Linked DNA regions of Homo sapiens: region 1 is linked to region 2. The links come from fine-mapping of genetic effects on gene expression. A gene starts in region 2. The other region holds a variant in brackets. All regions are shown on one strand. Distances are between the middles of the regions. Region 1 overlaps LHFPL6 (LHFPL tetraspan subfamily member 6). Region 2 holds the start of LHFPL6 (LHFPL tetraspan subfamily member 6).

Evidence for each region.
Region 1: its variant is fine-mapped to the expression of LHFPL6 in blood mononuclear cells (TOPMed, PIP above 0.99). The same link has a PIP of 0.9 or more in T cells, lymphoblastoid cells, monocytes and whole blood.

Annotation. Positions count from the first base shown.
Region 1 is chr13:39,411,508-39,419,507 of GRCh38, forward strand. The region is part of intron 2 of LHFPL6 (LHFPL tetraspan subfamily member 6); the gene reads right to left. Among named protein-coding and RNA genes, the nearest start is that of LHFPL6, 190 kb to the right of the region's middle. RefSeq lists an enhancer at 5,536-6,478. The variant T/C (reference allele first, on the strand shown) is at 3,069.
Region 2 is chr13:39,599,358-39,607,842 of GRCh38, forward strand. It overlaps LHFPL6 (LHFPL tetraspan subfamily member 6), which reads right to left and starts at 3,836. Exons shown (of 4, transcript NM_005780.3): 1 at 3,526-3,836; 2 at 1,475-2,033. The coding sequence starts at 1,859. LOC112268119 (protein SPT2 homolog) reads left to right here and starts at 1,967. Exons shown (of 4, transcript XM_035861111.2): 1 at 1,967-2,036; 2 at 3,093-3,183; 3 at 3,287-4,285. The coding sequence starts at 1,967. RefSeq lists a silencer at 3,731-4,030.

The DNA of each region.
Region 1 (8,000 bases), 190 kb before region 2:
GGTTGCCTTATTCCTTCTCTAAGCTTAACCAAGTCCTGCCCTTATAATAGTGTTGTGTTTATCTCACGAGGACCCTTTCATATCAGCTGTGATTGAAGCACCTACAGGGACAGAGACCTGGGACTTTCATGAGCTTCAGAAAAGGCGCTATGATTACTGGGGCCTGATTGCTATGACATATCTGTGTGGGAATGTTATGAGTATGCTTCTGTATTTGCAATGGAATTGTCGGGAAGTAGAACTATAGCCCTTGCCTACCTCTAAATAATGACAAGCACTGCCAGCTATTTACAAAATTCAATTTCTCCTTCTGAGGCACATACTTAAACTGTATTTCCCAGTGTCTCTTCAGTGGGATGTGGCCATTAAGTGAAATCTAGCTAAGGAATATGGGAGTAAGTGATGTGTGCTGTTTCTCATCATGGCTTTTAAGAAGTAGATGGATACAGCTTCCCATACTCTCTTTCACTTCTGTGGGACATAAGTATTAGAAGAGACTTAGGGGATGGTATACCTATCAATAGAACCTGGATTCTTGAATCATCATATGGAAGCTGACTGGTAATATCTACTTGGGCTGTAATGTGAGCTAGAAATAAACTTTTACCGTGTTTCAACCGTTATACATTTTTAGGTCTATTTATTACCATGGTCCCACCTACCTAACTGAATCAGGAGACTATCGATACTTACAAGAAATAATCTAGTAATTGTTTATGACCAGACTGATTTAGAACACTTTGAAAATATTCAACTATAAATGATCAGTGCACTTTATTTGAAGAACATTTGAGAAAAAAATTGTATTGGGGAATTAGCAGACAGAAATTTTACCAAGCAATTTTAGATTTTTACATATGACTTTTGACTGACCACTACTTCTAAGTCTTTCTAATTTTTTTCTTTTCTTTTTCTCATTCAGGAATCACAGCAGGAATCTTAATTATACTACCATGCCTAAAAATAGCAGCTAGCAATTCTTGAGAACTAACTATGTTTTGGGAACTGTCCTCAGAGCTTTCTGGCGATTGATTAATTTCACAACATTAAGAGGCAGATGCCACAATTGTTCCCATTTTATAAAGAAGAAACTGAAGTACAGAGAGACTACTTCCCCAAATTTATACAAATTGTAGGCCAGGTGCAGTGGCTCACGCCTGTAATCCCAGCACTTTGGGAGGCCAAGGCGGGTGGATCACGAGGTCAGGAATTCAAGACCAGCCTGGCCAAGATTGTGAAACCCTGTCCCTACTAAAAATTAAAAAATTAGCCAGGTGTGGTGGCGGGCTCCTGTAATCCCAGCTACTCGGGAGGCTGAGGCAGAGAACTGCTCGAACCCGGGAGGCGGAGGTTGCAGTGAGCCGAGATTGCACCATTGCACTCCAGCCTGGTCAACAGAGCAATACTCCCGTCTCAAAAAAAAAAAAAGAAAAAAATTGTAAATGGCAGCAAGGGAACCTGAACCCATGTCTAGCACCAGTAGGCACTCTCTTAACATCTTCACTATATTACACCTGCCTTCTGCAGATATCACAGTAGATTCAAAGATGAACGAGCCCTAACTCTACCCCAAGGAGTTTATAAAATTAGACATAATACAAAGTAGTACAATATATGCATCGCTAAGTGAAATACAACATATTGTGGACTTTCAAAAGAGGGAGAGATGATATCTAATCAAAGAAATCTGGAATATTTAACGAAGGAAAAATAGCATTTGTTATTCATTTTAATCCAATTTAACATACTTGTATTATGCAATATTTTATGCCAATTCTTCAGAGCCTGTGGTCAAATAATAACTATGAAATGTATCCACATTGATATGTACTCAGGAAAATATCCTAATCTTTAAAGTAGGAAAATAAGATTAAAATATTCGTAAATTATGTTCTTATTTAAATGTCAAACCCGAAACTACTCAGGATTTTTTTTTTTTTTTTTTAGGAATTGGGGGTAGGGGGGGTGGGTCTCACTATGTTGCCCAGGCTGGCCTCAACCTCTCTGCTCAAGAGATCCTCCTGCCTCAACCTCCTGTGTATCTGGGACTACAGGCGTGTGTCATCACAACCGACTAGTTTTTTTTTTTTTTTTCTTTAAGTAAGTTTTAAATGAATTTTTCTGTTGTGTTGCTGTCTTTAATAAGTGAACATATGTTTGCATTTGCACAAGTGTATTAAACTCTAACATGCATATTGACAAGTGTACATATAAGGTCAGAGCTCAAGGAATTTTCATAAGCTGAAGACACCATGTAAACTTTACAAACATTAAAAAGAATCAACCAGCACCCCAGTAGCCTTCCTTCTATTCCTTTTTAATCACCACCCCTTCCCAAGGGTTATCCTACCTCCTGACAAAATAGATTGGTTTTGCCTCTCTTTGTACTTAAATAAATGGAATCATAAATTATGGACTCTTTTGCTATGGCTTCTTTGACTCAAATTTATGTTTACGAGACTCATCCATAGTGATGAGTATAATTAGAATTGGTTTATTTTCATTGCTGCATAGCATTTCATTATGTGAATATACCACAATTTATCCACTCTACTGTTCATAGGCATTTGGACAATTTCCAGTGTTTGATTGCTCAAAAAAATAATTCTGGGAACATTCTCATATGCCGTTTCATTCACATATCTATACATTTTTGTATGGACTATATGGAGGGGTGAAATTGCCAGATCACAGGGTATAAAAGCATTTAGAAAGATATTACCTATTTGGAAATCAAGCTCAATAAATAATGTTATGAGTTAGTAGTAGCACAAACCAAATGAGAAATGCTTAATAAAATAAGCATTAGCTGTGAGAATATGTGTCAACATTCACACAACATCTTCCTAATTCCATCTTCCATCTTCCTCTTTCCAGTATCAGATTTTAGCCACAGTTCATTAGAAGCTTATCTTGTCATTTTTCAGGAAATTTATTTTATAATACCACATTATGCTTCAGGGCATGTGTTTCAGGACAACTGAGGGAGTCTTCATGGTGGATTTGGGCTGGAGTTGAGGTAGAGCAAGGGCCCCTGCATTTGGTGTTATCAGTCTTCTGGGACTTTC[T/C]TGGGGTACTGTTTTCACTTCTTCTTCTTATTTCTAGTTTAGTAAATTTCACATATAATGCTTCAAGCTGCTGTGGGCTTATTTTTTTTGCCATTTGTGTTAAAACATGCTATGAAATTCTTGCTTACAAAACTTGGATAGAAGGCATGATAACACCAATTATTTGTCTTATCTCTGCCCAACCACCTAAATGATATAATTACTGGCAACTGAGGTTTTTTCCTATGCCTGTTGGCATTTAGACCCCTAAGAGTATTATACAGGCTAGGGTAAATTAACCTGAGAGAAAATAGCATGGTAACTTATTTCAAAACACAAATCATTTTTACTAGAACCAGGCCAAATCAATGTCTTTGAGAAGCTACAGGGTCTTGAGTCAAATTACTGGGGGTGGACATGGTACTTTTTCCTAAACACACAATGAAAAGGATCACTCTGATTATAAAGTCTGAGTTTCCCTTTCTAACCCGTCTGTGGCACATGACCAGTTTATTTGGTGGAAAACACATTCCTCAGACCCCAGGACAGGCCAACTTGTCCTAGTTTAACTTGTGCTGTGCTTTTTTGTAATAGCAACCTAAGACGGAAACATCTGGAAAAATACCATGACTGAGCTGGTGGGATCAAAGACCAAAGTGAAATGCTCTATTGTTAATTTCCAGGAACTGACACAGAACGCAGAGTGAAATAACTCAGCTGGGCATGAATCCCGTTGGATTTCTGAAAAGCTTGCATACTACTATATTGCCTCAGCCGATAACTGAAGGAAAAGTAGTTCAGCAAAGTTGAGGAAAAACAAATTTTTGTGCATGTGTATGCACATGCATGTGTATGCATACGCACATGTGGAAGAACTCAGGTCTGTGTTCAACATGTTAATAGTGTATTCCTCTGCTGGCAAAGACAGCTTGCCATAAAAATACTGAAAAAAAAAAAAACAAAAAACAAAAGCAAGCTGAAGAAACACTTAAGTCCTTCATGAATTGAAATTAAGAACTGTGCTTGCAAAGAAGCATCCCGGTGCCCCACCAGACTGAACTCCAGGGGGCAGTGGCTTTCTGGCATATCTTTGCTCCCCTTGGCAGCTGGGGCAGTGTCTGGCTCATAGTTTTGCAGTAACCGAAGGTGTACTGGATGAAGGATTAATAAATGCATAAATGAATGGGAGAATAAATACAACAAGCAGCAAAGCTTCATAGTCTCAGTGCTGAATTCAAAGTGAGAAGTCTAAACCTTGACACTTTTCAAGCCTTTCTCATTTGCAGCCAGTTTGCCTCCTTGAACTTTGTTCAATACATTACGAAGAAAGAAAGAAAACAATACTTACCTACCTTGAGTAGACATTTGATGCTTAGATATTTGCAGAATCAGGACTAGAAAGGTCCTTCAGACATCACCCCTAGATTCTCTGTCCATAGCAAGTGTATAATGACAGAATGGATGTGAAATGAAGAAATGTCCAAGAAATGAGATTATGCAGTCTCCTTGGGTAACGACTGAAGTTAGAGTACTGAGCAAATGTAAATTGCAACAGAAATGGTAAAGAAAATTAATATGAACTGACGTCTTTGATGAGAGTAAGAGTAGTAAGACTATGTGGGGAAAAATAATCTGAACAATTTGAATCAGGTTCTATTGACTCAATGATCAAGCCCTAGAATATAAACCCAAGGAGGGCTGATATGTTTATCTGTTTTGTTCATTAATGTATCCCAAGGGTTGAGAACAATGCCAGACATATTACAGATGCTTAGCACATGTTTGTTGAATGAATGAACCTTAATATGTTAAAAAAAAAAAAGAGGAGGCATGAAACTCCATTATATTAGGCCAATTCATTCTCCAGTTCATTTACTCTATGTTTTCCCCAACTGTGGTGCCACACAATGATACTTTTGATCATACAGTTTAAAGGACAAAAAGGTAGAGAATAAAATGCCTTTTCCCTTCCCCTACCTTGAGCTCCTTTTCCATACAACCTCTGAATATTTGGGCAATAAAGTCAAAAGTCTGCAGCTGGAGAACAGTGGTATCAGTTTCATGTACTTAATGTGTGAATGCAGTATGTAATTGCAAGAGAAAAGAGAAAGTGCTAGCTTTCTCTCTTTTACAGTTTGTGTGAACATAAATCAAATACAGGAAAGTTATAAAGTCATTGTGCAGTTTTTTAAACATTTATAATTCTGATGTCAGAGGTGGTAGAAAAAATTTGTAAATGGCATGCAAATCAAATTTTCCTCCTAAAGTTGTTAAAACCTGAGTTCTGCTAGTCCCAGCACCTATTTTTATCTTCTTGTCTACCATAGGCATATGAACATTTGTCACAGGTACTTGAATAATGAATACATCTTGTACAATCACATAAGGGTTTTCTTCTTAAACATGAACATGTTTTTGTTTTAAAATGTCATCTGCAGATTTCTTCTAGCCTGCCGATACATTTAGGTTATTCCAAGTTTAGAAGAGCCCGAAGGTGTAGGGAGACTCCTCTTAACTCCAGGAAGAAACAAAGGTGGGATAGGCCAAGTTGCTTTTATTACACTTCTTACCAGTGTCCAGTGTCTTTTCTCTTCTTTGGAATCATCCTGCCTTATTCATATCCCTCTTGAAACAGGACAGGACTGGACTCTACCAAAAAGACTAACTACCCAAGCTTTTTCCCAAAGGCACTGTTGGTTAACAGACATGTTGCAGAAGAATCTGTGTGAAGCCCTCAACTGCTCTGACTTGGGTGCCCCCAGAGGCTAAATTAGGTCACACCAGCTGCATAATATTAAATGGGGCAGGGGCGGCCGGAGCAACGCTGTGAGAAGCTGACATTCCTCAAAGCATGAATTGGAAGCCAAAGTGGTAGTTTTTGTTTTGCCTTTTGAAAATACATCTTTCTATTTCCCTCTGTCATTTAACTAACAGCTCCTCTAACTTTCCACCCGCTCAAAAGGCAAAAGAGACGGAGGGAAGGAGTCACATCAAGGACCAATTTTCCTTAAGCAAAATTCTTCCTTGTTAGCCATTCTGCAAAAATTCATTAGCTGAATTAACCATTCTCCACGGACCTCATCTTTATTCCTCTCTTCTTTCCCCTCCCCGCTTCTTTTTAACCTTTCAGCACAGAATTAAGTCTTTGTGATATTCAGCACATCAATGAACTCACCCAGCCAGGCGGAGCTCCTGGGCCGGGGCAGGGGCGACTTTGTGGGCTGCATTCCAATTGACTGGGGTGGTGACAAGGAGACCCAGCCCCAGCCATCAAATGGGCCCTGTGTCTGAGTATGATTCATAACACAAACATGTTTAGAAAGCGAAAGAAAGGAAGAAAGGAGCATGGGATTTGAAGTCATTGAGTCAGTATTGTTGCAAGATTTAGAGCATTATGTGGGGAGAGAAAGAGTGTTAGTCTTGTGTCCTAGCACCCAATCCACAGACAGATCTGCATCAAAACAAGGCATTTCACATCTTCTAAGATAAGCCCAAATTAAAACAAAACCAAACAAACCCCACATCTACTCTTCCCACTCCACCATCCCACTCCCACCCTGTCCTGGTAAAATAAATGAATGCATGAAATAAACAAGTAAGTCCTGGTCAATCTTACTTACATATTTTATCTTATGAATACTGTAGTATGCCAAATTAGCTGCTAATTCTTTACATGGGATTTGAAAAAAATGCTGCAGGGATTTTTAAATATTCAATGAACTTAAAGAACAAATGGAATATAATAGATTCAAAATGAAATGATTGCCTAGAAGTATGCTCTGATTCCTAAAATAAGATTTTTTTTTAAAGGGTAAAGTTTTTTTGGTCTTTTTTTTTTTTTTTTTTTCCAGAATGCCATATAACTAAAATCTGAGTAAAAGGAATTGGCCATGTCTAACTTTTCTCTTACTCCCTTATTTTTAACAGACTTATGTACATTTTATCCAGAAATCTCCTAACAATGCAAGTAGCGTCTGGGGGAAGTAAAAGCTGCATATTAAAAGTAGGGTGGAAGAGAATGTCAGCTTGAATGTGTGCAGCCCCTAAAGATTATCATCCACTTTAAATGATAAAGATCGGCAAGGCCCCTCATTAAAGCAGAATTCCTTGAAGCTCCCAATAGCGGTTGTGCATTTTCTTCATTTATAAAATACAATATCTGATTCAGTCACAGAAACCTCACAATATTGTCTTATCTTTGACAAAATTAAACAGCTTTGCCTTTCCTATCTTCTACTCTAGTAATCTTTGGCATTAACATGAAATTTCTGCTGTGACCAAACAGCCTTGCCGACTTTACAGCATGTAAAGAATCCCATTCATCCTGAGCTGCCTGGGAGATAAAGGTGGGAAATGGGTGTAATGTTTAGTGATACACAAATATTGCTGCCCAATGATCAGAATACAGATTCCACAGATTCACCTTCCTTAAACGTTTCAGTAATGTTTTCCTTATTTTATTTTATAATATTTATTTTTTAAGAAATGGTTAGGGCATGGATTTAGCTTCCCAATTAGTAAGTAGGTGAATCAGTCTACATTTCAAATGTGGGCTGTACCAGTCCATCTACTTAGCTTCTGGAGACAGCTTCAACAAAACCCAGAACAGGCTGCACTCCCTTTTGTCCTGACCCCAATCTTGCTTATGAAAGAGAACACTTTTAGATGTGAAAAAAATGGCAAATAATGAGTTGTTTCTCTACTCTGGACTTCTTGTGAAATACAACTACAATTCCTTCATCTCTCCCTAGTCCCTAAGTTTAAGCTGATGTCACTAATGTGATCACAGTGCTCTAAAGTTACAGTGTTTTACCTATCATTGAACAAAGAAAAAGAGAAACATTTCCAGCCAGCTTTGGATGAAATGGTTTCAAAACATATTTGGTATTCCCATCCTCTTCTCTGGATAAGTAAGGAAACAAAAAGTGAAAAGCTTTATAACCAATAAATGTC
Region 2 (8,485 bases):
CTATTCTTAAAATTTGTAAGTTTTCAAACTCTGAATTTACATTTCCACTTTCAATGACAACTTCTTTAGGTTTCCTAATAGTTTTAAGTACATACCTGTGTAAATATACATATCACATGCAAGACTTTTGTCAGTGTTAAACATTGAAGCTGTAAAGAGATGACAGGTAGGTCCCCCACACTGCCTCCCGGGAGGGACTAAGGTGCAAACCCAATGGGAAAAAACCCAAATGAGAACAAAGTTACATCAGTAAGGAAAGAATGGACAATTCTATCTCACTTTAAAACAAAACTTTCTATCTCATTTCAAAACACAAAACTTTGCCACTTGCATTTTCAGCACAAGAATTAAACTTTACTGAAAATGTTACTTGAAAGTTTTATATTAAATACTCTGAAATAATCCATTGGGGTTCTCTAATATGGGGAGACTGTCTCACAACTACTCATTTTTAATTCATTTTTCTTCTTCTGGATTCTTCACAAAAGACTGTAAGAAAACACCAAATGAGGGAGTAACAGACCTTTACTTTGTAATGAAGTTCCAAATACATTGTATAAGTTTTCCAGGCTTCCTATTTCCCTTCACTCTGCACTATCTATGGAGGTTGTCATATTTCACCAGGGTGGACTGTAAATCAGACAAGTTCAGCCAGTCAGGTTGAAGAATGGAGGTGAAAAGCACAGTGGAAAATACATAAAGTACAATTAAAACCATATGACCAAAGATATTGAAGCAATACTTGCTGGAGGGAATCCAAGTAAAAATCAAACCTTTTCTGGCGTTAGTGAAACTATCCAGTCCATCTGGGACAAGCACACATCATTTGCTAAATATCCCTTTTCTTTTTTTCCACAGCAAGAGCACCCAGGAAAGTTAAGACCTAACAAGGTAATTAAGTGGATAGCTATCTCTGTAGAATAGTTAAGTTCATAGTTGTTATATAAAACTGATCTCTCATTTAAAATAGTTAACATTTATTTAGAAATAGAGTTTAAGATTGGGCAAGAGTAAATTTTGCATCCACCAAAGTGTATTAGAGGTTCATGATAACAATGTTGAATCAAAAACCTTTTCCACTTTTCTGTGAAATCTTTACCTTTAAAGACCCGAGGATTCCATGAAGACAAAGATAATCTAATTGTCTATTGTTTAACATAACGAACAAGAAGCTATAAAATCCAAACTGTCGCCCCTACTACACCTCAAACAACCTAGATGTTACTGTTTCACATAGGTGGCACTTAGCAGGCCAGTGATGTATATGTACAGAAATTAAGAACTCTTGAAGTTGTAAAGCAGCAATTCTGACAATAATCTTGACTTTGGCAACCTATCATCAAAGCCATTCCAAATCTATTTCTCTTATGCATTCCAGGTGTCATTTATAATAATCTCAGTAGACAACTGAAACATAACTTTTAATACTGCTTTGGGATTCCAGTAAACAACTCAAGCTCAGCAAGTCACTTACCCCCAAGAAACTGAATTCCTCCAGCCACTCTTCCCACTGTCCTGGAGATGAGGTCGGAAACACAGCAACCCATGAGGGCAGTGAGCGCCACCAGGAGGAGGAGGCCACAACCCAGGCCGGTCACTATGGTGCAGATCCTCCATTCTGCGCTGGGGATGCCCTGGAAGGAGGCATAGCGCCCACATTCCTCCACCATCACCATCATCTGCCGACTCTCATCATGCACAGGATATGAGCACCTCCGGAAGGTACCGAAGGACACAGGCTTGCCCAGCTGTGATCCCCAGAGCCAGTAAGGCATAAAGAACCCCACGCAGGAGGTGGCAGCACAAAGAAAAGACAGCAAAGCCCAGATTACTCCAGTACAAGTCAGGCTGGATGCCATCTTTCACCAGATAGGGCAATGAGGACCCCAAGTAAGTGTTCAGGGACTGCAGGAGTGAATGAAGGTGTGAAATCACCAGGGACCCACAGATAATCCACAGTTCCGTAATGCAGAATGGATCTTCAGTCTTACTGGGCATCAACTTTCCATCCTCTGCACTAAAGATGATGGTCCCTGGTAAAACAACAGGAAACATTAAAAATTAAAGGCATTAAAAGAAGTGATAACACTGTTTCAGCTAGTCTACAATTTTCAATTAATAAACATTGAGACTTGCCTCAACACTTTAAAAGTGGGAAGAACTAATTCTCTCTATGAGCTTCATAACTCGATTTTTGTCAAACCAGCTCAAAGCTTTTTCATGTCTTTATCTTCCGTAAATATTTCCAAATTAACTCTGACAGCTATTTACTTAAAGAAACGCCCGATTTTTATTTGACAGGCCAATGAATTCATTCTATATATTATATACTCACATTAAAAGTAATGTAGCACTTTCACTGGGCAATAAACAATTAAAATAAAATGAACCATGCCATGATTTCCATTTTTTGGCTTGCAAGTTCATGCTCATAGTTTGTTGCAACTTTTCTATGTCCCTTTAAGGGTGCATTAACTCTCTGCATGAGCCAAACAAACTAATTAGGATAATTTTTCACAATTGCAGAGTACCATAAATTTAACAAGCATTATGGTCTGCGGAGGCACCCACAGTACAGAACTATTACCAGACACTCTTTGTACTCATTCAGCAGCATTTCAGAATTTCTTTAGTCTTAACATCTTCTAGTGTAAAAGAATGCCTGTGTATGACTTATTTTGAGTCTGCAGTTTTGATTCATTGATTCCAACAGTTCTATTGCAATCATTTCTCCCACTGAATGATTGTCTAATTTGAACAGCAATCCATACTTCCCAGTATGCTACATCAAACCCCAGTCATCCAAATGGTTCCAGGGGCATCTACTTCCACCCCAGCCTTTCAAAAAGAGTTCCTTAACCATTTCTCACACTTTCCATAAAGAAATGAATACAGAAGCACAGAGCCCATCCACCCTAGAATTCCACCCCCAGGACCCCTAACTCCAGCTTTCAGGGTCCATAGCAAATTTCCCCCTTTCTTCACCTCGCCCCTACCCGTTTTTTTCTCTAACCACCGCCCATTTTCAGTTCTGGATGTCACTCAAACGGGAGGTCGGCTACTACTTTTTTTTCTAATCTTGTCAACTGCAGTCAGGGCTGAAGTTGATCTATCTGGGCCACGAGGCTGGGGAAGACCAGCAGGGGGTGGCCTGCGGGCAGGGGGCCCCCATCTCCAACTGCGGTGAGGCGCCCTCGCCAAGACAAGCCCATATTTAGCCCCCTGCCATTGCCTCACCGAGCCACTCCACCCATGGAGACACACAATGATCCCTCCATTCTAAAAGGGGGCAAGAGGCATTTTCCAGCCGGCTCTGGACGAAGGGAGGGGATAAGGATGGGAAGGCAGCACCCCCCGGAGGCAGACGCCAAGAGCGGACGCGGCTGGCAGGCAGAGCCGACGGATCCGCCGAGCTCAGGAAGTCCGGAGCCCGGGAGCAGCCCAACTCCGGCTCCGGGGCAGAGAGGGAGCCCGGGAGAAAGCAGCGGAGCCCACGCCCACGGGGCAGCCGAGTGATTTACTTACATGGCTGGCGGGCGGCGGCCACCTTCCCTCCCGCGTCCCGGGCGCACACACAACTTGCTGTCTTTCTCGGGCGGGAACATCCACGGGAAACCGGACCGTCCTGCCCTTCTTTGCCTCTGTCCCTAACAGCCGCAGAACCCCGGGGCCCGACCTGGAAGAGCAGGGGTTGGCAGGAGGCGGAGGGTCTCCAGAAGCGGGCTGGCACCAGCGGAGACCCCCACTCCCGGCGAGTCCGCGGCGGCAGCTCTGGCGGAGCGCTGTGGGCGCGCGCGGGCGCCGGGGATCGCACGCAGAGGAGCGGATCTCCCTTTGGCAGGCGAGGCACGCACCGCCTCCTCCCCTCCGCTGCCCGGCCCTCCTCTTTCTCCAGTCCCCTCCCCTCGCGCCCCGGGGAACTCCGCGCAGACAGACCCAGGACGCACCGGGGACGTTCCTGGAGCGCCGGGAAGGGAGTGGGGGGGTGCCCCGCTGTCCGCGCGGGTCCAGGCCCACCCCCGGGGGCAGCTTTCGCGGCTCCTCCCCTAGCCCCGAGCCCCCTCGCGCCCCCTCTCCCTGCGTCTCATTCAAAGCTGAGTGGGGAAGGCAGACAGACCGAGAAGTATGGGAGAAAGTTGCTTGTCTTCCTGGGTGACCCCGAGGAGCCACGGAAGATGACACACTTTGCCTGTTGGGGCTTTTCTGGGTTTACTGTTCGGGTTTATGCTCCTGTTTTCCTGCCGCCGTTAAAAGAAGCCGTAGACGGGAAAGAGGGCCTTAAAGAGTGGGTAAAGTGGCCCCTTTGAGATTTGAGGAGGCTTTTGAGAAGTGGTCACTTTGGAAGGCGGTGAATGAGGCGGTTGTGGACGTGGGAATTAAAGCACAGCAGACAGCCCAAGGCTCATGTATGGCATGGGGGCAGCTGCCTTTCCAGACGAGCCAGGGAGAAGGCAGGGGCGGACCTCTAGCGAGCCTCTCCCAAGAGATACACTCTTTCAAAGGTCTCTCTCTCTCTCTCTTGCTGTTTCTCTGTCTCTCTCTCCCTCCCTCCCTCCCTTTCCCTTCACTTCCTCCCTCCCTTCTCCTCCATCCTGCCTCCTGATCAATTTTGCAATTTATTCCATCGTTTGATTTCTTTTCTGAGAAACAACTGATTTTTAGTTCCCCTCTGGACTTGAGGACTTTTTCCACTTGTCATTAGCACTAACCCCTTTAGAAGTTTAGAGCTAGATTCAGTAGATGACTGTGGGAGTCTCTGCTGAACACAGTATTTTAAGAAGTATGCCATCTGGGAACAGCAGTTTTTGAAGTAGACAGTTTCCCAGATATAGTTTTTGTGAGGTGTCTTTTTAGAGGAGTTGAAAGTAATAAATTGGTAGGTATATATTTCATAGCAGATTTTCAGACTGCACCATTTTAATTAGCCGTGATGGTGTACATTTTTCCCACAACGACAGCTGGAGATATGTGTTCTTTTATTATTATTTTGAAAGACCTTAAGTGATTGATTCCAAGCCTTTTGAGGTCACAGGTCTTTTAAAAAATACGATGAAACTGATAAGCCTTCCAGAAAAAAAAATGCGCGGACATATAAAGCTTTACCACAGCGATTCTGAAGAAGGAAAGGGATATTTGGCAAGGTCTGAAGATAATTTTGATTATCATAACCCATGAATGGGGAGTATTACTGGCATCTAGTTGGTAAAGACCCGAGATTCTGCTAAATACAGTGCACAGGACAGTCCCCAAAATTACCTGGGCCAAAATGTCAATCATTTGAATGAAATATCAGGTGGTTTCCCATTCCCTTAAAGCCCATCCATGAATCCCATATTCAGAATCCCCAATTTAAGTGTTTTTGTTTTTGGTGTTGTTGTTGAGTTTAAGTTGTTTTAACTCTTCTCTTACAAATCACCGGTTACTGGTTTCAGTGACAGCATAAGAATGATTGGTCTGACTTCCAGTTAGGTACCACACCCTTAGTTATTACACAGAGCCTTCATACCTATATAATATGATGGTGGAAGATATGATCATAAAAGACAAAAGAATAATAGTGAGAATCGGAGTCACCTCCGTACAACCTGCAGGGGAAATTGCTCTCAAACACTTTCTTAAGTGTGAGAAAGCTTAAGCGCAAGTGCTGGCTGGAGACATATTAATGATAATCATGGTTACTACAGATTGACTCCTTGCTGTGTGTTAGTACATTAAGGTCCCTTAATAGATTACTTATCCAGTCCTCAAAAAAGAAAAGAAAAATTATGAAGAAGGAATAATTATTATTTTACCGCAAGGATAAGAAGTAATTTGCCCAAAAATTTACAGCTAAAAAATGACTTTTAAAAAAATCTCATTATTTGCACTCTCTTAAGCAGAGTAAATGCTATCACAGAGATTCTGCCTAAAATGAAAAAAAAAATGACAGAAGAGGCCAAATTTTTAAAAATCTTTCAGGATGCAATATCAATTATTTGTGAAAGTATAATACTGGGACTCAAATTTCTAACTTAAATAAGTGAATTCAGACAAATGGTGATCTTCCCAAGCCCTAAGTTATCTCATTGTTAAAAAGAGATTGAAATAGGTTATTTTAATTTTTTTTAAGCTCACAACTTCCAGCATCATGGTTATATGGGTCCTCTTATCTTTGAGAAGGAATTTAGAGATCATCTAATCTTGTTCAAGTATGTAATTTTACAGCTGACAAAACAGAGGCTCGAAATTCTTCCAGTGTCTTACCCAAAGCTGAGGCTATAATCCACATATCTTGATTTCTCTTTCTAATTATCTTACTAAACTATAATATCTTCTGAATTACTCCTTATGTTCTTCCATGCACACTTTGTAAGCAAAATGCATTATAATTTATTTAAGCCCCTTTGCATTAAATTTGTACCTTTAAAGGACCATTAAATTACTTCACAGCCAGAAGTTCCCACATAGCAGATGCCACTTATAACACCTATTCCAGGTTTGGGTTTCCAGTATGTTTGGATAGTAGTCTCATTGAGTCACAAGATGAGATCATGAATGCGACAGTATATGGAAAGCTATAAAGTGTTTATGACAACACTCTTGGTTGGCTACCCAGTATTAATTCACAATCCCCTCTCCCTTCTCACCAGATACTCTTCTAGCATCCCTTAAAGCAAGTAATGGCCACTTGATCCTGCTGTAGCCAATGAGTTTGCTAAGGAGGCCTCTGGGGAAGATTGTATTCTCTGATAAAATAAGGAGACGTGAGAGAATAGTTCTCTCACCATCATGACTGTCTTCGGGCACATTCTTGAAGGTGTTTAGAGCTCTAGCAGCCTTCTTGTAACCAGGTGGGGGGTCACAGAGACATACTCCCAGTGATCTAACATTGTAGAGCTTCTCACCTCCATTTGAATTATTTAAAAAGTAAATTATAGATTTTTAATATGGTTTAAATCACTATGAGTTGAATTTTCTCCTTTTAGTAGCTAAAAGCATTCCTAATTGATAAAGCATGGTATAGATAAGACATTTTCAATGAGAGGAAATATACATCAGTGAACATTGTATCTCAGTGCTTGGCAATGTAGACAGATACTCAATAATCAAACAGTAATTGTGGGATTTAATGAACAAATCAATATCATCGTGATTACTATCCTTGTTCTAATGCAGCCTACAGAGTGGGTATTTAATTTTTAAACAAATGGTATGCTATGTGAAATTAGGGAAGGAGCATGATAATGAAATATCGAGAACATAATGAAATCAATCACTTCTGACTACCAGAGAGAGATTGGAAAGGGATTTAGTCTGTCCACAATTGTGGCAAACACTACAGTTTGGCTGATATCATTTCCAACTCACTTCTTTTACATTGTTATCTCCTACGAAAGCAGTGAAAGCTAAAATCTCCACGTCCTAGCCTCCCTTGAAATTTGAGGGGCGATGTGTGTGTTATGATATATATTAATTTTTGTCTACAGTTCCTAGCTCCCAACACCCATAGCCCTTGTTACAGTATTTTGTTACAGTGTTGGGTATGTTAGGCCTCAGGAACAGACCTCAAGAAACAGAACCTCTCTAACCTGCTTCTGCTCTCCTTTCACCTGCCCCAAGGCAGTACTCTAATCTTTCCCCCTCCTTTCTGACTGTGGGTCTTAGGACCCTCCCCTGAGAGGGACCCACCCCATATCCTGAGGAAAGCAATGGTGACATCATGAAGCTTCCATAAAAACCCAAGAGGGCAGGCTTGGCATGGTGGCTCACACCTGTAATCCCAGCACTTTGGGAGGCCGAGGCGGGTGGATCACCTGAGGTCAGGAGTTCAAGACCAAGCATTGCACTCCAGCCTGGGCAACAAGAGTGAAACTCTGTCTCAAAAACAAACAAACAAACAAACAAAAAAACTCAAGAGGGCTGGCGTGGTGGCTCACACCTGTCATCTCAGCACTTTGGGAGGCCAAGGTGGGCAGATCACCTGAGGTCAGGAGTTCAAGGCCAGGCTGGCCAACATGGTGAAACCCCATCTCCACTAAAAATACAAAACTTAGCTGGGTGTGGTGGTGTGCACCTGTAGTCCCAGCTACTCAGGAGGCTAAGGCAGGAGAATAGCTTGAACCCAAGAGGCGGAGGTTGCAGTGAGCCAAATCGCACCACTGCACTCCCGTCTGGGCTACAGAGCCAGACTCCATCTCAAAAACAAAACAAAACAAAACAAAACCAAGAGGACTGGAAGTTCCTGGAGGATGGTGTGCCCCAGGAAGGCATGGAAGCTCCACACCCTTTTCCCCATACCTCGCCCTGTGCATCTCTTCATCTGTTTCCTTTGTAATATCCTTTTATAATAAACTGGTAAACATAAGTGTTTCCCTGAGTTCTGTGAGCTGCTCCAGGAAATTAATTGAACCCAAAGAAGGGGTCATGCAAACCCCAATTTGAAGCCAGTTTGTCAGAAGTTCTGAAGGCCCAGACTTGTGACTGATGTGGGGTGACAGGGGCAGTC